2 separate regions of the Homo sapiens genome follow, and region 2 is linked to region 1. The links come from fine-mapping of genetic effects on gene expression. A gene starts in region 1. The other region holds a variant in brackets. All regions are shown on one strand. Distances are from middle to middle.

Region 1 (16,065 bases):
ACTCAATGCAATTCAACCAGAATCCCAGCAGGCTTTCTGTAGAAAGTGACAAACTGATTCTAGAATATTACTGTGAGAAGGGATCCACAGGCTTTACTAAATTGTCAAAAGGGTCTATGGCACAAACCAAGGTTTTAAAGCCCTATCGCTCTCCAAATTGTCAACTTCCAGGTGTACTCTTTCCTAAAATTGATTTGCCTGAGAACAAGTCTATGTCCTGAAGATTTTCCTTAACCACTTCTTTGTTCACAATTTTTTCCCACTTGACTAAAACAAAGTATTTCTCTCAGCCATCCCAGTGTTACTGTAGGCCATTTTCCTAGGTGTAAAAAAATTTTGTGGGAGGAGGGGGATGCAATCTGTAGATTTAATTCTATGAGAAAGCCACTTAAGAGTAAAGCACAAGGAAGTTTGATAAGAAATACTAAAGGAGGCTGTACCTTGCTTCTTTCAGGACAGATGTTAATAACAACAAGAACCCACGCCTTATCTACCACAGAACTACAGTTAAGAAGATGGTTGTCACAGAGATATATAGGAACACATTTATTTCAATTGATAAACTCCAAGGTTTTGATAAAGTAAAGCACTATCACAATATACGACAATTTAGAAATTAGATCTTTTGCAACTATTTAAACTCTTGACAAAAAAACTCCAGCTGTGATCAACTTAAAAAATGTGCAAGAGGAGCACATGTTATTCAAAATTATTGGATACACAAGCAAAAATATTTGAAGACCACTGATCTCAGGTAGTTTGTATCCTGTTTTCTCTATTAACGAAATTATACTTATGTAAATATAACCCACTTTCTTCTATTAAAGATTTGAACTGTCTGTAAATGGAAATGGAGACTGACTTTCCCTTTTTAATTTAATGCTGCATTTTTGTAAGCAGCTAGAAAATGTTGCTACTGGCATTATGAAAACATTTACTGGCTATGCCAAGTTGTTCTCTATGAACATCTGCTGTTGATTTTGACGGGAAGGTGAAAGGATACAAAATTCTATTTAAAACCATACATATCTATTCCTCTAACGCTGCCTGACAAGCTATATATTAAATGCCGTGCATCTTGTTATACACTGAGAATACAGAGGTTCTTCTTTTTAGGGACTCCGTCCAATAGCAGACTCAGTCCTCCAAAGAGTTACAGCAATTAACTTGTGGTAAGAATGTACATGCTATGGAAATATTAAGATGGGCTCAAAACTATAAAGTAAGGGGGGAAGGAGTATTCCAGAAGGGATTATAATACCACGTGCCAAGATATGTAAGGGAGGAAGACTATGGTGTGGTCTGCAAACTACAGTTACATATGAAAACAAAGCATATTTTCAGAATTGATATTCAAATTTGAGATGCTATCCATCATCCAGAGTCAACACTGATGTACGTATGGCAAAGAACAGGCATGGAAATTCATTTGGTGGTTTAATATTTACTGAGTATCCACTATGTATCTGATACCATATGAGAAACTGGGAAGGAAGTAAATGAAAAATAAGCTATGAAAAATCTTACATCAAAGGGAGAAGACAGACAAGTAAAACCACCACAGCACTAGCCTACAGAGTGATAAAACGCTACAGAATATACATGCACAGTGTTATAGGAACAAAAAGAAGAGGAATAGAATGTTTCCCAAAAACAGTAATGCTAGAGGAGTAAACTGGATAGAGAATAGGAGAATTGTAGGAGTAAAATCACAAAGCAAAAACCAAGTTCAGTTAAAAGCTGAAGAAAAAGAAGAAAGTATGGCAAAGGAGGCTAAAAAGCCAGATCACCAAGGACATTGAGTAGTAAGAAATCAAGCTATGGAAGCCACAGAAGGGTTTCAGGCATCAGTAAGATGATCAATCACTCTATCAAGCAGAGTGAAAGATATACTAAAGGTGGAGGCTGAGAATATGGCAAGACTGAAGAGAACTTCAATATGCAATTCAGGGATATTTATAATTCAGAATATATAAAAGCAAGAAAATAAAGGAAATATGGTCAAGGAAGATAGAGAAGAGATGGTGGGTAAAGGAGGTATTTCAAAGGTGCTAGTTATACAGATATTTATTTTGTATTTACATGTTAAACTACGTTATATACTTTTATGTGTTATATTTCACATTTTAAACAAATTTTTAAAGGGAGAAGCGTTGCTGAATTACAAAAATAGCAGTGAGAAAGGAGAAGAAAGGAAAAATTAAGAAACAAGTTAAAACCAAGAGAAGAAAAGAACGAAACTAAGAATCCTACCCCACCCCCAATTTCACAGTCTAGGTGGAAGGTGAAGCCATTTACCAACGACATATAGAAGCCAGTTGTTTTATAGGGGAAGAACTCAACTTGGACATGTAGAATTTGAGCTGCCTGAATGACACTCAGATGGAGATATCTAATAGGTTTTTAGACATGCAGGCCAAAAACTTAGAAAAAACCGTCCAGACTGAAAGTAAAAATTGGTGCACGATGAGCCAGTATGGTAGACTATGGCCTTGAAAAATATCACCCAAGAATACCATGAAAATTACAGAAGGCCAAGGACAGAGTAATCTCCAAGGAGCCTGTAAAATAAGACCTGAACTTAAACGAGATTTTGAATTATTAGCATAGCCATTTGACATATAAGAAACCTAAGAGTCCAAATACCTTTTCTTAAAATGATAGCTTTTCATTTTTCCTTTGATTAATGAAGAAAAAAGCCTATATTTTCCAATGACAAAGTTATAAATGATGGAAATTCTTAGTCATGTAAGGCATTTCTCATTGTACACCATTTATTATAATTCACTTGAAATTCAATCATCTGCCCTTCCTAAATTTCAGCCAAAATAGGATTTGGGGTAGCTTCAGTATGATTCCAAGACTGTGTATCTCTCTACCATCTAGCTCAGCCATCACCTGGCTTTCAATAGAACCAGCATGTGAATCTGTTGTAATACTAGATTTTACGTGCACCTGGCAGAAAGTAGGATGAGTATTACAGCATCTGACAGCAGGTAGCTGAAAGGAACTGGCAATTCTTTCAGTCCTGCCTGCTCATGAATTCTAGATACAGCAAGAAATGTAACAGGTAAAATTATATTTATGCTTAACAAAGACTTCCTGAATTTTCAAATAACATGACTACAAACAGTCCTATACTTCCCCAAGAATATATTTTTACTTTTTTCCCCAGCTTCCCAAGCTTACAATCCCAAGAATAAAATATTATAAAGCAGAATGAGCTTCCATTTTTGTTGAAGTCACTGCAATGCAAATAAAAGGCTTACCGTAATTACATCTGGCAATGAAGTTACATTTAATAACTTTCAGTCTCATGGCACCTAGCAGAGACTAGACTTTCAAAAAGCACAAAATAATAGACACTGACTACAAAGAACAACAATATAAAACAAAGAAACTCAAAATAGTTTGCTTTATCCCTTAAAGGGGCACAAAGGTCTGAGATTTGTATGTAAATGCCTGAAAATAAGAGAATACCATTTATATCATCATTTATAGTTATTCAATGAATTTTTGTAATTCTAATTAAGAATTACATTCAAGAATTACATTCAGAAGACATGAAATACGGTTAAATACTTCACAAAATCTGGGGGAAAATACGTGTGCTTATACTCCCATATGCAGTACTTACCTGTTTGTATCTAAAGAAAGATGATCTTAAGATATATTCTCTCTCTCTTTTTTTTTTTTTTTTTTTTTTGCTGCTCTGCAAGGAGCAGGGCTAACTTTAAGGCCAGAGTTGGCCTTAAGATGTATTCTTGAAATATACATTTCTGCTTGTGGGAGCACTCAGAGATTACTAGAAGTTTTTTAAAAGAAAGTTTTCAAAAACTGGATAATGCTCTTCTTTGTTCTATACAGAAATCATGTTTAATCTTATACAGAACAAAGATTAAACCAGCTGAGTATAATCATTCTCTTTACAATTACAAAGAGTATCTAATTATCAGACATAGTTAAGCCAGAACAGATTACAGAAGACAAGCCTGATTTTAAAAACGAACATAAAAAACTGAAAAGACTTAGCAATGTACAGCCAAGTTAGTACACAAATTATTGGGTACCTACTAGATGAAAAGCACCATGCTAAATGCAGGGGGAGAAACAAGAAGTAAAACATTCAGTTTCTGTCACTGGTCACAAATTTTAAGACCACTGTACAATAAGATTTAAGATTTAAAAAGCAACATGAGGCCAGTGGCTCATGCCTGTAATCCTAGCACTTTGGGAGGCCAAGGCAGGAGGATCACTTGAGCTCAGGAGTTCGAGACCAGCCTGGGCAACATAGTGAGACCCTGTCTCTATGTAAATAAAAATATTAAAAAAAAAAAAAAAAAGAAAGCAACATGAAATTTCAGGCAACATACGCTTAAATATCAAATTAGTAATTTAAACAATAAGTAAGATCTGAGGAAAGATTACATCCAAGTTTTTTGAAGCTACTTCCAGCCCATGTATTTAGTGAACTATAGTTTTTACAACAAGAAGTTAATCAGATTCTTGAAATTATTGTAATTTTTTTTTAAAGCAGTAGCAGAGGGGTGACAGTTTCTCACTATTCAGGCCTTCCAGCTAGAGAAGAGGGACAAGGAATAACTGAGTAGGAAATTAGATTAAATGATCACTTCCTTAAAGTCTACAGTTCTTCCTTAATTTAAGAAAGTATAAAATCTCGGCCAGGCGCGGTGGCTCACGCCTTTAATCCCAGCACTTTGGGAAGCCGAGGCGGGTGGATCACGAGGGTCAGGAGATCGAGACCCTCCTGCCTAACACGGTGAAACGCCGTCTCTACTAAAAATACAAAAAATTAGCCAGGCCTGGTGGTGGGCGCCTGTAGTCCCAGCTACTCGGGAGGCTGAGGCAGGAGAATGGCGTGAACCTGGGAGGCGGAGCTTGCAGTGAGCCGAGATCGCGCCACGGCACTCCAGCCTGGGTGACAGAGTGACACTCCGTCTCACAAAAAAAAAAAAAAAGTATAAAATCTCAAATACAATGTATGAAAACAAACTCATAAAACACAAGTACTGTCTAAGACAGTGGTTTTCAAATTCTGGTGAACATCTAAATAACCTGGATAACTTCTTAAACCACATAGATGCCTAGGTAGTATCTCAAACCTTTGGAATCGGAACCTATAAAGGTGAAGTATATCTGTATCCTGAGAAAGCTCCGTAAGTGATTCTGATGAACAGCAAAGTGTTAAAATTAAGTTACATGGTTAAGTACACACTCTTCAGTGGTAAGGAAATCTGAGTTCAAATGCCAATTCTAATATTTACTAGAGCCATCACCAACTAACTACCCACCCTAACACTATTTCTAATCTACAAAAAGGGGAAAAGCTAGCTATACCTCAAGTGATTGTTATAAGGATTAACAGTGATGATAAGATAAAATGTTTAGTACAATTCTTGGCCCATTCAGTAAGCATTAAATGAATTCATTCATTTAATAAACATTCAGCACTTACACATCAGGAGATGAGGAACATCTAATTAATTTATTAAGTATTAATAAACATGACAACTCTTCAATGGTGTGGTAAGAACATATAATCAGGAGAATGTATTCTAATCAGGAAAGTCTTCCCTGAAGTGAGCTGAATGATGAATAGGCATAATTGGCTAAAAAAAGAAAGGAAGGGCATTTCCAAGCAGAGGAAGTAGCATAACCAAAGCCACATACTTGAAGCAGGAGAACAGAAAAGACAGGGTGACTAGGGGAGAAAGGGAATGTCAGAAAGCACAGTGGAGATGAGTTTGGAAAGGGGACCGACTATGCAGGGCTTGTAGGGCATGTTAATGTGTTCGATTTACTTAAAAATGGTGAGAAGCCACTGAAAGATTTTAAACACTAAGACAATGTTATTAGGTCTGCATTTTGAAAAAGTCACTAAGTCTTGTTTGGAAAACTACAGGAGACCACAGTAGATGCAAGCAGACCATAATCAGGAGGCTACGGAAGTAGTCAGGATGAGAGATGGTGGTGGCTTGGAACAGGACTACTGTTACAGACGAAGAGCAGACAAGAGTCAAGAGATATTCAAGAGGCAAAATCAACAGGACTTCATGAGAGGCTGAGTATGAAGCACGACAGAGGAATTGTCAAACTTCAACTTCTATACAAAGGAATGGATAGTGATGCTACCCACGGAGTTAAACACAGTAAGAGGAGCTATTTTTCTTCTTGGGGTGGGGGAAGGGAGGTATATCATGAATTTCAAACATGTGAATATGAGTAGTTATTCCCAGTAACAGGGTTGATCTGTCTAGAAAGTATTCCACAGTATAGAAGTACAATGTGCCTGTATTTATTTTACTGGGTATTTATGAATCTTAGAGACAAAATAGGTTTCTGCATGTGAGTAATGTAAATCTAAAGAGAATGAAGGCCCTTACCTTCCATTAGGTTCCCTTCCTTTACACAATCCCCCAAAAGCATTCTTTATGATTACAGTTTAATGTTGCCTCAAGAAGTAATTTATATACTCAGCTGATTTCATTTTTAAATATTTTAAAAATATTTGTGCTAAAGAATAAGACAGCAAACCAAACAACAACAAACCTGCAAAGTCCAAAAGGAATCTTCAAGCACCTGACTTTCAAGCCATCACCAGAACATAATGGGGTTTTACAGTGGCAGGCTGATTTGGAGCATTTTTGCTAAACTATTTATTTTTCAGAACGGAGATAGGCTACTTAGAAAACTCACTCATAGTATCCAATGTTTTTAGAAAGTGTCATCACAAATAATTCCTGAGTTTGACGTACTAAAAAATAGTTGACACCTTCCAATGAAGTCACTACAGGCATAGCGCTTTTAAGCAGCTTGTCTGGAGCCTCCTCGAGTGCCTTAGAGGGTGGATTTGATAATATGGCCTCCTTAATTACGGATCACAGGTATGTGCTCAAAGTCCAATAAGTTTTTGCAAGCTTTATCGGTCTAAACCCTCCTCCATCCGTATTCTCCCGTTTAGAAAAACAAGACTGCAGGAGTAACCGTGGGGTTTTTTCTCTTAACAAAACCCCTGCCCCACCCACCTCACACACAATAACCTTCCATTCCAGAACTAAAGCTACTGTCAGAGAAGGACGGCGGGCGGCAGGGCCCTGGCTGGTGACCCAGGCTACCGGATTCCGGACCTCAGAACTGAGGTGAACTCTCTCACCCGGTCCTAGAGTAGTGTCCAATGTCCCCGAAAGGTACTACGTTCTCCACCACCGAAACCCGAGCTCTCGAGCCGGCATGGGGGGCTCTCCCTCCGGCAGCTGACTTCGATCCCGGGTCTCCCGTCGCCTCAAGGCCTCTTTCGAGGACTCGGCCCTCTCGGATCCGCTCCCCGGAGCTCGCTGCTCGTCCAGCCCCGCTTTGCGCGGGCGCCGACCGCCGATCGCCCGGCCGGCCGCCGGCAGGCCCGTCACCAGGCAACACCCACCAGCCTGAGCGGCCCTGGGAGGCCTAACCCGGGCGCGAGTCCTCCATTCCCTCCTCGCCGGCTCCGGGAGCCCAGGCGAGAGAGCCGCCGGTGAGGGAGGTCGGTCGGTGCCGGCGGCCGGTCACTTACCTCTTCCTTCTTCCAGGAGGGGCGGTGCTGGGGCTCTTTCCCCCCGCCCCCCTAATAAACGCCTCCTGGCTGTTCCTGCTCTGCCTTCGTGCCTGGCCACTGACTCTGGCTTTACTCCATATCCTCCGCCGCCCCCGCGGCCGCAAACGTCGGAGCTAGAAGGAAAGGGGTGGGGAGGGGAGGGACCGGGGACGAAGAGTAAGGGAGGGGGAAAAAGACTAAAAGACCTGCCGGCCGGGGGCATGACGTCACTTCCTGCCGGTTCGGAAGAGGCGGAGCCAGTACTTCTCTCCGCCCCGGGTGTCAGGTGGGGCGGGGCTATGGTGCCAGGGGAGGAGCCAGCGCGCGAGCTTATGGCGGTTCTTTTGACTCCGAGGTTCCGTAGACTTGTCAGTCAGAACGAGCTTCCGGGCCCAGGGCTGAACGGGCCAAGTTCCAGGAACCGTAGAGATGGCTTCTGCCGGAAAAGGAGGACAGGTAGCCCTGTATATCCTAGCCAAATGTGCAGTGAAGGTGGAGGGGGCAGCTGAAGGGAGCAGGCGGCTGGGACTCTGCTCCTCATTGGTCCAGGGCCCCGCCCATTTCCTAGCCCCGCCCCCTTCCTGCCCTACCAGGCACTGGACTGGGGGACCCAGGACTGAGGCTTTTTAGGGGTTACTGTGGTGAAGTGCCCTTGGAGCGTGCAGGAAAGCGTTTTTTCTCAAACTTTAATATACATACGAATCCCTAGGATCTTGTGAAAGTGCAAATTCTGATTGAGGAGTAGGGTCTGATAATCTGCGTTTCTAATACATGTCCAGATGGCACCAATGCTGCTGGTCCCTAGGCTACACTTACAGCAACAAGGGGTTAATGTACTAGAGGGCAAATTCCTTGAGCTAGAGGAGTTATTTCTTTAATCTAGCCTACTTGTTTAATGAAGGTTAGAGAGGTAGACTGTCTATGGAAAACAGGCTGTACCGCTGTATTTTCCACCTACCCCGTCGAGTACCCTCCTGCCCACCTCCGCCCATCACTTTCTGGCCTCCCCTCCTCAGTCTCCGCTCTGCCCACAATGTCTGGGGATAAGATTTCTTGAGTGATTAGACGGGTAACTTCTGTTACAGAAGGAATTTGAGGGTGGTGGATTTTTATTTCTGTCATTTTATCGTAAACATATGTATAGTTGGGCATACTTTTGCGGTTATGCATAGTTGGAGAAGAGAGCTTAAGTTCTTGGATTCTACCCACTTCCCCCTGCAAATCTAGAAAAAACATTCTAGAAGTTCTAAGTTATTCCCTTATCATTCTTTAATTTTTTTAATTAATTTTAATTAAATTTAATTTTAATTAAAATTTTACTGGGGTACGGAAGAATGAAGAATGACTGCGAACTATAGGTTTCTTTGTGGAATGATGCAATGGTCTGAAATTAGATAATAGTGATGGCTGCACAACTTTGTGAATGTACTAGAAACACTGAATTGTACACTTTAAAAGGGTACATCCTCTTTCATCAGCCACCATTACAATCCTTCTTCCCCAAGGTTACTCGTTTGAAGTTTATTCTTCCAGATCTTTCTATTTATTTACATACATTTTTACATAGGTTGGGAATTCATTTTTACCTAAGTAGGATAATAATATACAAGTTGTTCTGCTCAGCTCATTTTTAAAAAATTTTTGTTTTGGGTTTTTCTTTTTCCCTACTTAATGAGATCCTTGCACACTATAAACATAGCTCTACTTCATTCTTTCTAATGGCTGGCTACTATTCTATAGTAAGGGTATACCATAATTTATTTAACTGTTTTTTTCAGGTAATAGACTGTTTTTTTTCCCTTGCCCAGGCTGGAGTGCAATGGCGTGATCTCGGCTCACCGCAACCTCCACCTCCTGGTTCTAGCAATTCTCCTGCCTCAGCTTCCCAAGTAGCTGGGATTACAGGCGTGCGACACCATGCCCAGCTAAATTTTTTTGTGTTGTATTTTTGGTAGAGATGGGGTTTCACTATGTTGGCCAGTGTGGTCTTGAACTCCTGACCTCCACCTGCCTCAGCCTCCCAAAGTGCTGGGATTACAGGCTTAAGCCACTGCGCCTGGCCAACTGTTTTTGTTTCTAATTGAGACAGGGTCTCACTCTGTTGCCCTGACTGGAGTGCAGTGGCAGGGTCACAGCTCACTGCAGCCTCGGCCTCCCTGGCTCAAGTGATCCTCCCACCTCAGCCTCCTGAGCAGCTGGGACTATAGGAGCACGCCACCATGCCCCACTAATTTTTTGTATTTTTTATAGAGTCTCCCTGTGTTGCCCAAGCTAGTCTTGAAATCCTGAGTTCATGCGATCCTTCTGCTTCAGCCTCCCAAAGTGCTGGGATTACAGGCATGAGCCACTGAACCTGGCCAGTAATAGACATTTTGATTGTTTTTAGGTTTTCATTATTTCTCAGCAATTTTTTTTTCTTTTTGCCCAGAGAAGTGGGATTTCTGTTATTTGGAGAGTAAGTTCAGCATGTGATAAGGCAATTTTTTTTCATTATGCAATATGTCCATGTAAAATAAGGCACATCTTTATCTAAACCCCTTAATCGGGAGCAACAGTGGAAGCACTTTCTAGAGCCCAATATCTCTACAATGTTTGGTAGTTTCACTTCATAATTTAGATAATTGGGTTATATTCAAGTATTCAGCTCAAGTGGGTATGTGACCCTCTTTCATTTTTCAGCAAACTTTTTTTTTTTTTGAGACAGAGTCTTGCTCTGTCACCAAGGCTGGAGTGCAGTGGCGCGATTTCAGCTCACTGCAACCTCCATCTCCTGGGTTGAAGAGATTCTCCTGCCTCAGCCTCCCGAGTAACTGGGATTACAGGCGCATGCCACCACGCTCGGCTAATTTTTGTATTTTTAGTAGAGGTGGAGTCTCGTCATGTTGGCCAGGCTGGTCTCAAACTCCTGACCTCAGGTGATCTGCCTGCCTCGGCTTCTGAAAATGCTGGGATTACAGGTATGAGCCACTGTGCCTGGCCTTAGCAAACTTTTTAAACAGCTGGTTTAAACAATTAAAAAAATTGATTATTTAGTTCTTTGCCTTGATCTCCCTAATGAAGAACTAACCATTGTTCAAAAGGGCAAAAAGAAAAAAGAAAAGGCAAAGAGTTTGGTGAAGCCACAACTCTGTAATAATCAATACTCAAGTGTATTTGCATTACTTTTAAATATGCCCTAAAATAACATTCTTGAAGATTCGGTATAACTAGTAGTTAACCATGTAATAAGGGTATATAAATTCATATAATAATGTATTTCACATCAGTAAAGCAAGTTCCCAGGTTTACTCTGTTTTTATTGGCAGACCCACATGGTGCAACTTAGTAAATATACTATAGTTTATGTAAGATGTGAGATGACACGTAAGAAGGACATTACCAGCAGATATGCCTTCAACAAGCATAAGGTTGTCAAAACTGAAAAATTTGCATATTTTTGTATAATCTAGATTTGTTAGAAATGCATATTTAATTTTTTTCAGGATGCTCTGGTCCTTTTCAAGCTACTCAGCTATGGGATGGTATTATTCACTCTCTTCAGGCCCAAGTGGAAATAAAAAGAAGGAGGCATCATTTACAGACATACAAAGACTGTTTCACTGGTTCTGATGCTGTCGATGTGGTCTTAAGTCATCTTATGCAAAACACGTGCCTAAGTAGCAATGACATCTCTTGTCTTAAAGGGGTTCATCTTTGCCAAGTTCTAATGAATCACAAAGTATTTGAACCAGTAGGAATGAAGAAGCTTTTCAAAAAAGAAAAGGAATTAGAATTTGAAGATTCCAACATTAGTCTCTACAGGTTTCTAGGCAATAAATCATCTTACGATTGTTGCAAAAGACAAAAGGATGCTGAGAATGAGTTCAATGAAACCTTGAGGTTAGTGTTACCTAAGATACTGTAATATATTTTATTTAGACCCTAGAAGAACTGTCTTTATTGAGCTAAACTCGAATGTGTACTTTTTTCAGAAGCCAATTAAAAAAAAAAATCCATGTGAAAATTAATCCACTTATGCATTTCCTCTAAAACTGGAATGATGCAATAGACTAGAATTAGATAATAGTGATGGCTGCACAACTTTGTGAATGTACTAGAAAACACTGAGTTATACACTTTAAAAGGGTGACTTTTGGCCAGGTAGGGTGGCCCACGCTGAGGCAAGACGGACAGATCACTTGAGATCAGGAGTTCGAAACCAGCCTGGCCATTATAGCAAAACCTCGTTTCTACTAAAAATACAAAAATTAGCGGGATGTGGTGGCAGGTGCCTGTATTCCTAGCTACTCAAGAGGCTGAGTGAGGCACAAGAATCGCTTGAGCTGGGGAGGTGGAGGTTGCAGTTAGCCAAGATTGTGCCACTGTACTCCAGCCAGGGCGACACAGCAAGAATCTGTCTCAAAAAAAAGTGAATTTTATGGGATGTGAATTATATCTCAGTAGTTTTTACTGTTTCCAATATAGCAGCATCTGTTGCTGTAACCAAAAATATATATTATTCCTTTTCCTTTACAACATTTTGTTTTCCTTAGAGCAAATACAGTTTTGTTTTCTGTTTTGCTTAGTTGTTGAAGACATTATCACATAAATTTTTCAGAGTTTATACCAGGAAAAACTATGTCTTCTAAGGAATGGATATGCTTTCTAATTTGAAAAATGACTTAGCCAGTGTACTAAAAGCCAAGGTTTTCTGGAAACTCAGAACAAAAATTTTCTATTCCATCATAACAACTATGTTAACCTTAGAATTAGCATATATGCTTTTCTTCTTTATTTAGAATTCTAATTTGTCCTCTTTTGGTGATAGTCTATTAAATGAATTATTTGCATCTTTTATTATAAGCTGCCTGAAATCGTTTTTGGAAATAGAGAATGTATGAATAAATTTTAATACATTAATTTAAATATATATTTGAAATTTTGGTTCTGTGTATAATGAAAAGAGCCACGTATTATTTTTTAACAGACCAGGATATGAAATGATTTCAAATCCTCTAGCACAGGAGATTGGTGAGGAAAGAATTGAGGAACTTATTCATACAATAAATGGGAATCCAGCTTTATGTCCAAATATCACAGTTCAGAAACCTTTTCTCCGGCTTTCAAAAGAAGGTAATTTGTTTTCATTATTTTTTCAGAACATGGTAAGGAAGAACTAACTTCTTTTTAACAGGTTCTTATAAGCAGTTTCAAGGTCACGGCAAAATAGAGCAGAAAGTACAGTTCCCACATACCCCTTGCTTCCACTCACACACAACCTTCCCCATTATCAACATCCTGCAACCAAGTGGTGCATTTGTGATAATCAATGAATCTACATTGATACATCATTTTCACCCAAAGCCCATAGTTTACATTAAGGCTCAGCCTTGGTGTTGTACATTCTATGGGTTTGTACAAATTTTTGATGACATATTATCTGTCATTATAGTATCATACAGAATAGTTTCAGTGCCCTAAAAATTCTCTGTGCTTTACCTACTCATTCCTCCCTTCTCTCTAACCTTAGGCAACCACTAATATTTTTACTGTTTCCAAGAACTGACGTTTTAAATGTGATTTAAGTAGTGTATTAGTGTGTTGACTCCCTCCTTCTCTTCCCTGTAGGAGTTTCCTTCTACACAGCAATTACATCAGATAAGACAGGTGAGGCAATATACATCTAATAACACTTAATTCATTTTTTACAATGACTGTGACCAGATTAACTGGAGGTGCTATAGTCTGCACTGCAAGAGAAAACATACGGACTCACCACAGTCCTTAGTATTTGTCCTGCAAGACCATCTTCTTAATGAGTGTATCCTTTGTCCATTGTGTAAACTCCTCCCAAACATCTTCCTACTCTTTCCCTTTCTCAGAACAAACTAGCTAAACTACCTGTTGCACCACTCCTCTTTACTATTTACTTCATCTACTTGTGTTTTTCTCCTTAAAATGCCACTAATGGCAGATAAAAGAGCACCATAGCCAGGGCAGTTAGGAGAGATACATACAAAATTCATTAATGGCCCTTTACTCCATTTGGTCAAACCATGACAGAAGCAAGACTAGCTATGACTTGCACACTGGAGGACTGTGATTTATCAACAATAGTTAACATTGGCATGATAAAGGAAATACAGGGTGCCCAAAGAAAGGGTGTAGAATTGAGAAGAAGAACTAAAAGAGAACTCTTTTTTTTTTTTTTTTTTTGAGACGGAGTCTCGCTCTGTTGCCCAGGCTGGAGTGCACTGTTGTGATCTTGGCTCACTCCAACCTCTGCCTCCCAGGTTCAAGTGATTCTCCTGCCTCAGCCTCCAGAGTAGCTGGGACTATAGGCGCCCGCCACCACACCCGGCTAATTTTTGTATTTTTTAGTAGACACGGGTTTCACCATGTTGGCCAGGTTGGTCTCGAACTCCTGACCTCAAGTGATCCACCCACCTTGGCCTCCCAAAGTGCTGGGATTACAGGCGTGAGCCTCCTTGGCTGGCCATTGAGACACAGTTTCACTCTTTCGCCCAGGCAGAAGTGCAGTGGTGTGATCTCAGCTCACTGTAAACTCTGCCTCCCAGGTTCAAGCAAGTCTTGTGCCTCAGCCTCCAGAGTAGTTGGAACTATAGGCGTGTGCCACCATGCCTGGCTAATTTTTTATTTATTTATTTATTTTTTGTATTATTAGTAGAGATGAGGTTTTGCCATATTGGCCAAGCTGGTCTTGAACTCCTGACCTCAAGTTATCCACCCGCCTTGGCCTCCCAAAGTGCTGGGATTATAGGTGTGAGCCACCATGCCTGGCCGTAAGAGAACTCTGATGAAGACTAATATTTAAAGGGCAAGCAGGAGAGTCCCCCAGAAGTACAGTTTTTATCTAGTACAAATGAAAAAATAACTTTTCCCATTATTTTTTCTTGAGGTCATGACGTACCTCTAGAAATTTCAAACTAAAAGTGGATATGATTTATCAGTAAAGGCCAGGGCACGGTGGCTCACGCCTGTAATCCCAGCACTTTGGGAGGCCAAGGTGGGTGGATCACTTGAGGTCAGGAGTTCAAGACCAGCCTGGCCAACATGATGAAACCCCATCTCTACTAAAAATACAAAGATTAGCCAGGTGTCGTGGTGCGTGCCTATAATCCTAGCTACTCTGGAGGCTGAGGCATGAGAATCACTTGAACCCGGGAGGCAAAGGTTGCAGTAAATGGAGATCGCGCCTTTGCACTGCAGCCTGGGCAACAAGAGCGAAACTCTGTCTCAAAAAAAAAAAATTCTATAGGTAATAATAAGAATAATTTCCACTTATTTTGGACCTTTCTCTGTGCTAAGCAATTTGTTATGCATTTTATATTTATCCATGATTTTACAGTAGCCTGTAAAGTGAAGGGTAAAACTTGCATTTTATAGTTAGGGAAACAGAATCAGAAGGATCACATTAAAAAAAAAAAAAAGACATAGGAGGGAATGAAAGCTGTCACTCTAATGTGGGTTTTTAAAAGTATTATCCTTACCCTTGTTTTATAGGCACATAACGTAACCGTTCAAATAGCTGTTCTAGTTTTGTTACAAAAAAATAGCAGTTCCCCACCCTTTCATTCCCTCCTCCCCAGACAGGCCATTTACAACTCGTATCTCTAAATAGCATGCTTATATTGTTACTTTATGATTTTTCAGTTTTAGGCACATCCATTAATTTTCTAAAAGGGAAAATGGGGATTTGTGTCTCTTTCCCTCCCTGTATCTATCTTACGAATACTTCCCTATGCCCCCATCTTTTAATATAATTAGATTGCTTTGATTAGAGCAATACAGCATGTTTACATTATTTTGTAGAAAAGAGCTATTCAGAGTTGAGGTATGTAATAAACCATCTGTTGTTATAACTGAAAATATATATTATTCCTTTTCCTTTACGACGTTTTGTTTTCCTTAGACCAAATACATTTTTGTTTTCTGTTTTGCTTGGTTTTTTACATTCATACACATTTTCACCTACAAACACTCCAACACTTATCCAAATCACCTGCTGGCATGCTCAGGTGTATCAGGTATTTTTATCAATTTCATCTTCTTGGGGAAATCCCCTTCATAAGGTTTCTCATGTCTCAATAACGGACTGGCTGCCCTCTATACTTGGTGCATGGTTGTCATCCTGGTGTCTGCCTTTACCATGATCATGGGGATTACCTTTGCCTGTTATATTGTAGATCTCCTATGTCCTGCCTTCTGTGCCTTTTCTTGTTTACTGCTGATTTTAGTGGCACACATTTTCTAGTAGTTTCCTGACAAAGGGTACATGGGATATATATATATATTTTTTTTTTTTGAGACAGATTTTTGCCCTGTCGCCCAGGCTGGAGTGCAGTGGTGCGATCTCGGCTCACTGCAATCTCTACCTCCTGGATTCAAGTGATTCTTGTGCCTCAGCCTCCCAAGTAGCTGGGATTACAGGCACACACCATGACACACAGCTAATTTTTATGTTTTTAGTAGAG
Region 2 (8,000 bases), 58 kb before region 1:
AGAAGCTTATCAGAACCAGGTTCAATTCTTATTGTGCAGCAGTAAGGTTACAGAATGGCCTTCTATTCTGAAACATCTAAATATATATTTCAGAAATCATACTCAAGGCATCTATTTCAAAGGGTATAGTATAGGTACAGTCAAAATATAAGTCCTACACCTTTATTCACTTCTTCAGCAAATCAAACTCAACATGTTTGAAATTTAATAACTGAATTCAATTCCACAAAATCCTTCCCTATTGTCTCACCTATTTACTCAATCTTCAAGACCCCACTTGTTACATCTATCCACAAAGCCTTCATTTGGTAAACTGAGTACATTTCCGCCTCATTCTCTGAATGCTTTTGAGTTCTAAGTGTTTTGTATATAATCCAAAGCTTTGTGAAATACCATCCCCCATTATTCTGTTAATGTGCACATGACTTATATACCCAAAGAGTAACTTTATTGGGCACCTACTAAATGCTTATTTGCTGAGCACTATGCTTGTTACTTTCCCTTTGTTTCAGTGAAGTCTCACAAGAATCCTAAAATGACGTTAGTCTCATCCTCATTGGATAAATAAACTTTTCAAAGTCACCTCAAGAACTGACAGAGCCAGGATTAGAGCCAGGGCTCAAATTTCTACTATGCCAAACTCCTGCTCAAAAAGACTTTTTTTTTAAGACAGGGTCTTGCCCTGTTGCTCATGCTGGAATGCAGTGACACGATCATGGGTCCCTGCAGCCTCAACCTCCCTGGTTCATGTGATTCTCCCACCTCAGACTCCCAAGTAGCTGGGACTACAGGCGCATGCTACCACACCTGGCTAATTATTGTATTTCTAGTAGAGATGGGGTTTTGCCATGTTGCTCAGGCTGGTCCTGAACTCCTGGGCTCAAGTGATCTACCCACCTTGGCCTCCCAAAGTGCTGGGAATACAGGTGTCAGCCACTGCATCCAGCCAAGAAGACAAACTTCTTTCTGCACAAAAGATTCATGCGATATCCCTAGAGTACCTTCCATGTCTATAGAGGTCCACAATAAATACTTGCTAACCATTCCCACAAATATTTACTGAGCAGTTTCTGCAGGCCAAGCACTACATTAGGTGTTAAGAATACATGGATGAATAATATAATTTTTCTTAAAAATTAACAAAGAACCAGGCGGTAATCCCAGCACTTTGGGAGGCCGAGGCAGGTGGATCACAAGGTCAGGAGTTCAAGACCAGCCTGGCCAAGATGATGAAACCCTGTCTCTACAAAAAATACAAAAAAATTAGCCATGCGTGGTGGCAGGTGCCTGTAATCCCAGCTACTCAGGAGGCTGAGGCAGAGAATTGCTTGAACTCGGGAGGCGGAGGTTGCAGTGAGCTGAGATGGCACCGCTGCACTCCATCCTGGGTGACAGAATGAGACTCCATCTCAAAAAAAAAAAAAATTAGCAAACAACCTTAAATTAAATAAAAAATGAACCTGTTAAATGTTTTTGTGACTCTATAGCTATGCCTATTTTATTAGTGCAGCAGACCCCTGGCATTTTCAGATTGGACTTCTATAACTTTAACTATATATAAATGATTTCAGAGTTTCTTAGTAATTTGTAATTATGCTGAGAGAACAGAATGTCCTATAAGGTTAACATGCTTCATCAGCATATCACTTAGCCACAAAATATACTAATTAAGACTTAAACATATTAGAAAACCAGCTCCTATCACTTACCACTTATATGATCTTGAATCACTTATTTTACCTCTCTGAGCCTCAGTTTCCTTATAAAATAGAAACAATAGTACCTATTTAATTGAATTTGGGGAAGAATAAAATAACATAACGCAGAGAAAATACTTTGCCTCTTACAAATTGAGTATCAAATAAACCTCAGATATTACTACTAAGACCAGTATCAGCATTTCCAGTAGCTTTGTTTGCCTCTCTCACTTTGTACCATTTTATGGGGAAAACTACATGCTATCATGATATTCGTAAAGCTAGAATTCTTAAATATCTTATTCCTTTATAAATGTCAAGATTCTACTGCTTTTGCTAAACTTAAAGAGAAAAGTTATATTATGGTATTTATCACATCATTCTTCAATTATGAAATGCTATATACACGAAAGGAGAGTATAATTGTTTTATAGATTGGAAAATTTATTTGCATGATAAAATAGCATCAAATGACATTAAATTTTCAGCTACCTAAAATTCCCATGAGGACCGCAGGTTCCTTGGATGGAATTTGTTGTAAGAAGGGTAGGATATCATCAAGTACAAACCACTTATCCAAGTATTCCAAAATCTTTCCTAAGCACACTAATGAATTTACACGAACCTATTAAAAGAGGTAAATTGCATTAGTCATTAAAAGTTTTCAAAATCTAGAACAAAATATTTAAGTGTAAACTTAATCTTCATATAAATATGTTAAAGTCTCAAGAATAAATGTAGATTTAGAAGCTCTCATCCTTTATCAACATAGGAAATTCACTTATTTACTAATTTTCCTGGCTTGTTTCACAAAGAATTTATGATTGCTTCACCAGGTCACTAGTGAGCTAAAGTCAAGGAATGACTACAATCTTGTAGCATTTTAAAGTGATTAGAATTTGAGAAACTTTTACTACATTATGTGTTACTATCATAAGAACACTCCTTTGGGGACATTTGAATAATAAAAAGGACTACATTCTTTGCACCAAGTGATCATTTTCACCCACATTCCAGTATTTTACTCTAACTTGGGTTCAATTCATTTTTAAACTAAATATTTTAACATGTGAAGGTATCCATATATGTGTTTTCTATTTCCAAATATACAGTTATTAAGACCTCTTATTTAGAAGCTTTTATCAAAATTCCATATGCACTTGACTATTTGATAAATACATCATACCCTACTTCTATTTGGAATTTCTTAAGATAGAATATCTTTAAGTCAGGACTATAGTATTAATAAAACTCCAGTTTTCAAAAAACAGTAAACCAACAAAGGCAGAAAATAATTTTGTTGGCTAATAAAGCACCATAGTTCTACAGGAAAAATGGGGAAAAATTTCCATTTCTAAAAAACAATGTACAATTGTTTTCTGAAATTAAAACACAAGAGATATTATAAATTCAAAAAGGTATCTGAACGCTTAACTTGTACTCATAATTCGTTTTATAAAAGGAACAGCTGCATTCTACTGAGATATATATATATTTTAAGCAAAACCGAGAATACTAATTTTATTTACTTTTAGGATATATAAAATATTAGTCATGTAAGTAATGAATAAATATAGCTCTTGGAGGATTTTACCTAACTCTGTGTAGAATTTTTAAAAATTTTATTTTCAGGGAAGAGTATTAAGACACAATACTAACTCACGACTCAGGAATTTCCTAGTCAGAATTTTAAACTTTTAGAGATAGAGGACTATGAATACAATTTGGGAATTCCTATTTGCCACTCTGAAGGTAGGCAGAAGCACTGAAAGTACTATCTAAAATCCACTTAAAAGGTGACATATAAAATGTAAATCCATTCCTAGTTACTGTTCTAAATATAAATACATTCATTATAACTTCTTGTAAACAACATGCCTTAACGGCCAGTTGGCATCTTAAAAAGAAACATACATATAACTGGGCAGCAATTCACATCATTTAAGTATCCATGTTTCCCATTTCTACATACCCCTACATATGCTCAGAACTGAACTAGAACAGGTACTCGCTTTGCTTTGGTTTTGGATTTTTTTTGGGCGGGGTGGGGAGCGGCGGGGGCTTGCTCTGTCACCTAGACTGGAAGGAGCAGCACAATCACAACTCACTGCAGCCTCGA[C/A]CTCTTGGTCTCAAGTGATGCTCCCACCATGCCACCACATCCAGCTAAATTTTTTTATTTTTAGTAGAGACGAGGTCTCGCTGTGTTGCTCATGCTCGTCTTGAACTCAGTGCTCGAGATCCACTCGCCTCAGCCTCCCAAAGTGTTGGGATTAAAGGTGTGAGCCACCATGCCCGGCCTACAACATGTACTTTGAGAAAATGTATGTTAATATAAATTTATGCTGCCATAAAATAAGGTACATAGTATGATTGTAAGATCTTTAAAAGGGCATTTTGAAAACTAAATTTTAAGCTGTATATTACTACCATCTATTTTAAAAATTCAATTGTAAAATTGAGAATTTTAGAGAAAACAGCTACTTTTAATGATAGTGAAGACTCAGAGAGGCACAGTGACTTTTCAAGGTCACAGGGGTTGTTAGTAACAAAGTGAGAATAAGAACTAAAACTTGACTTTATTTCATTTCATACTTGTTTGTTTCAGTAATGATTTCTTTTTCTACTTTGGTGTTACATTTTCCATTTCAAAGCCTTTCAACCAAGAAATGAACTAAAATAGATTCAATGGCTATAAGATAAAATCATATCATTCAAATTACTTTTGCTTATAATTTTATTAAGCTGTTTATTTTTATTTAAATTCACATTCCACCAGATAAAGACGGGATCTCCAGAGAACTAGTTTTACAAAATGCAAATTTAATAATATGTCCGTTATCAAAAATCAATATCAAGAACTGGTCAGGCAAAAGAGAACATTTCTCCCTCTTTAAAGCTGCTATTTTGAAGACAGCATTCAATATTACTTCTATAAAGAAATATAAATGTGATAAACTATTATATTTAGTGTTAGAGAAAAGGCTGGGGACATTTATTGCTTTCAATATGAGATAATGAAAACTTTGTTATTAATTCTACCTTCCTTGACTAACAAGTAACTGAATGTTAAAATTTTGTATTCAAAGAAGGTAACTATTTCCTTGGTCTACATTTTTTAGCACAACTATTTATCCTACTTGTATTCACATTAATTTATTGCTTTCTTGTACTCTACTTTTTTAAGAAGTGGGCAAGTCAGTGAGAAATAAGACATTTAGAGACCAATAACTAAAAATAAAGGCTATTTATAAAAGGAAACTTTTCAACAAGTTTTTACGCTTAGATACCAAGTTAAACTCTCATAATATTTTTAAACTAACAACAAAATAAATTCAGTTAAAGCAGAAAAGGATTAAGAAAAAAATAATCACCCAACTTTTTTACTGAAGCACTCAAAGTAAAGGGACAGCAAGTAAGGTTAGGAATGCAATATTATAAATTATGTATCAAAGAAAACTACAGCTCATTTTTATAGTACTATATACAAGTTATCTACAGCCAAGATGAAATACATCAACAATCTATAAAAGGGTTATTAAACAATAAGAAAATGATTTAAAGCACTGACAAGTGAAAAGAAAAACAAAAATTAATATGCAATTACTTACCGCAAGGGAAGATGTTTGTAGACAAGCATTTTTAATTCTTGGTATCAAAGCGTTTTTCATGGATGGGTAGTCTATAAGATTTGCAAAGGTTGGAATGATGTTTAGACAGAGCTCCTATAAAGAAAATAAACTGAATCAATATTAGGGAAAGACTCATCTTTTCTCTCTGATATTACAAAGTTTTGCATTTGCATGGCTAAACTGTCATATAGTTTGAAACAAATTTTCATATATATTATTTGGTCCTTTCAACAACTCTTTGAAAAATGAATGGTTATAATCACTTTTCAGTCTTACAGATGAGAAAAAAAGCTCAGAAGACATTACTCAAAGTCATACTAGGTCATAATAACTAGTGTATGACATCCAAACTCCCTGATCTCATTCCTAATCTCTTTCTTTGATAACACAAGTCCTCGTTTATCTTTAAATAACAACACATAAGTTTTGCTATCTCTCAGAAGAAGGGAAAATCAAGTATGAAATCATGTAAAAATACTCCTCTCAAGTAATTCTCTTAGCTGTTACATATATCCATATGATAACATACAACAGTTTTTTAAAACAACATACCGAAAGGAGTGTTTAATTTTTTTTTTTTTTTTTTTCTTGAGACAGGACCTTGCTCTGTCACCCAGGCTGGAGTGCAGTGACGCAATCATAGCTCACTGCAGCATCAACCTCCCAGTCTTGTGGGATCCTCTGGCCTCAGCCTCCTGAGTAGCTGGGACTACAGGTACACGCCATCATGCCCAGCTAATTTTTTTTTTTTTTTTTTGAGACGGAGTTTTGCTCTTGTTGCCCAGGCTGGAGTGTAGTGACATGACCTTGGCTCACAGAATCCTCCGCCTCCCGGGTTCAAGCAATTCTCCTGCCTCAGCCTATCCAGTAGTTGGGATTACAGGCACATGCCAACACACCCAGCTAATATTTTGTATTTTTAGTAGAGATGGGGTTTCACCATACTGGCCAGGCTGGTCTCAAACTCCTGACCTCAGGTGATCCACCTACCTTGGCCCATGCCCAGCTAATTTTTCAATTTTTTGTAAAGACAAGGTCTCACTATGTTTCCCAGGCTGGTCTCGAATTCCTGAGCTCAAGCAATCCTCTCACCTTGGCCTCTCAAAGTGCTAAGATTATAGGCATGAACCACTGAGACCAGCCTTAAAAGAGTGTTTAATAATTTTTAGAAGAAAATTGAGGACAGAGTATTACATAATCCCAATTCTTTTTTTTTTAGTTTTCTTTTTTTTTTTTTTTTTTTTTGAGACGGAGTCTCGCTCTGTCGCCCAGGCTGGAGTGCAGTGGCGCGATCTCGGCTCACTGCAAGCTCCGCCTCCCGGGTTCACGCCATTCTCCTGCCTCAGCCTCCCGCGTAGCTGGGACTACAGGCGCCCGCCACCACGCCCGGCTAATTTTTTGTATTTTTTAGTAGAGACGGGGTTTCACTGTGTTAGCCAGGATGGTCTCGATCTCCTGACCTCGTGATCTGCCCGCCTCGGCCTCCCAAAGTGCTGGGATTACAGGCGTGAGCCACCGCGCCCGGCCCTTTTTTTAGTTTTCTTGGGTTTTTTTTTCTTTTTTTTTTTTTTTTGGAGAGTCTTGCTCTGTCACCCAGGGTGGAGTGCAGTGGCAAATTCATAGCTCACTGTAGCATCCTGGGCTCAAGTGATCCTCCTCCCCAACTCAGCCTCCCAAGTAGCTGGCACTACAGGCATGCACTGCCATGCCTGGTTAATTTTATCATCTTTTATTTTTGGTACAGACAGGGTCTTACTATGTTGCCCAGGCAGGTCTCAAACTCCTGGCTTCAAGAGATCCTCCCACCTCAGTCTTCCAAAGTGCTCAAATTACAGGTGTGAGCTACCGCACCTAATCCCAAGTTCTAAAATGTGTAGGTACCTGTGTCTATCCATAGGTTTAGGAAAAAAGACTAGAAGGATATATATGAAAATGTTAACCATCGTCATCTGTGAGAGCGAATTTTAATTTCTTTTTTTTGTTATTTGTAAGTACTTCCAAATTCTGAAACTTAAAGCAAGCATAACTCAGAAATGGGGGAAAAAAAGATTTAAAACATTCTTGTTAACTAATGTGGTGCCATAGTAGAAATGATAACTGGCAAATTCTGGGAATAACAGGAAAACAGAGGGATGACTGGGGGCTAGGGAACTAAATGAGAAAATGAAAAGAAGAAATGGCTTGAGAACTAACTGGCTAAAGTACACACATCTCAGGCAGTTTATGAGAGATGATCCTTGTAGCAAAGCATAAGAGAAGGGATCACTGAGGAAAACGGAAGCACAAATGTGAATTAGGAAGGATACTACTGAAAATACTGGCAAACTTCAAGACATCCATTTATAGTTAGAAGACAGAAATAAATTAACTACTAAGAATCTGTTATCAGAACACTGGATATATTTTATTTGCTTTAACTTATTCTTAGGCTTCCAAAAGGCAAATGTAAGAGAGTTAATTGTTTGTATCCACTCAGAACTATTAATAATTAAGTGATTGATAAAATTTAAAAATGAGCCAGGCATGGTGGTGTATGTTCCTGTGGTCCCTGCTACTATGGAGGCTGAGGGAGGATCACTTGAGCCTGAGAGAGCGTGGGAGGTCAAGGCCACAGTGAGCTAAGATTGTGCCACTGCACTCAAGCCTGGGCCACTGCACTCAAGCCTGGGCAACA

What was found. PIP is the estimated chance that this variant, and not a neighbour inherited with it, causes the effect.
Region 2: its variant is fine-mapped to the expression of SCYL2 in whole blood (INTERVAL, PIP above 0.99).

What each region holds. Positions count from the first base shown.
Region 1 is chr12:100,258,902-100,274,966 of GRCh38, reverse strand. SCYL2 (SCY1 like pseudokinase 2) reads right to left here and starts at 7,790. Exons shown (of 18, transcript NM_017988.6): 1 at 7,175-7,790. It overlaps DEPDC4 (DEP domain containing 4), which reads left to right and starts at 7,888. Exons shown (of 10, transcript NM_001364818.2): 1 at 7,888-8,047; 2 at 11,074-11,470; 3 at 12,558-12,703. The coding sequence starts at 7,891. RefSeq lists enhancers at 7,156-7,215, 7,226-7,295, 7,966-8,045 and silencers at 7,366-7,445, 7,546-7,595.
Region 2 is chr12:100,320,944-100,328,943 of GRCh38, reverse strand. SCYL2 (SCY1 like pseudokinase 2) reads right to left here. Exons shown (of 18, transcript NM_017988.6): 11 at 5,306-5,419; 12 at 2,190-2,322. Among named protein-coding and RNA genes, the nearest start is that of SLC17A8, 32 kb to the left of the region's middle. The variant C/A (reference allele first, on the strand shown) is at 3,817.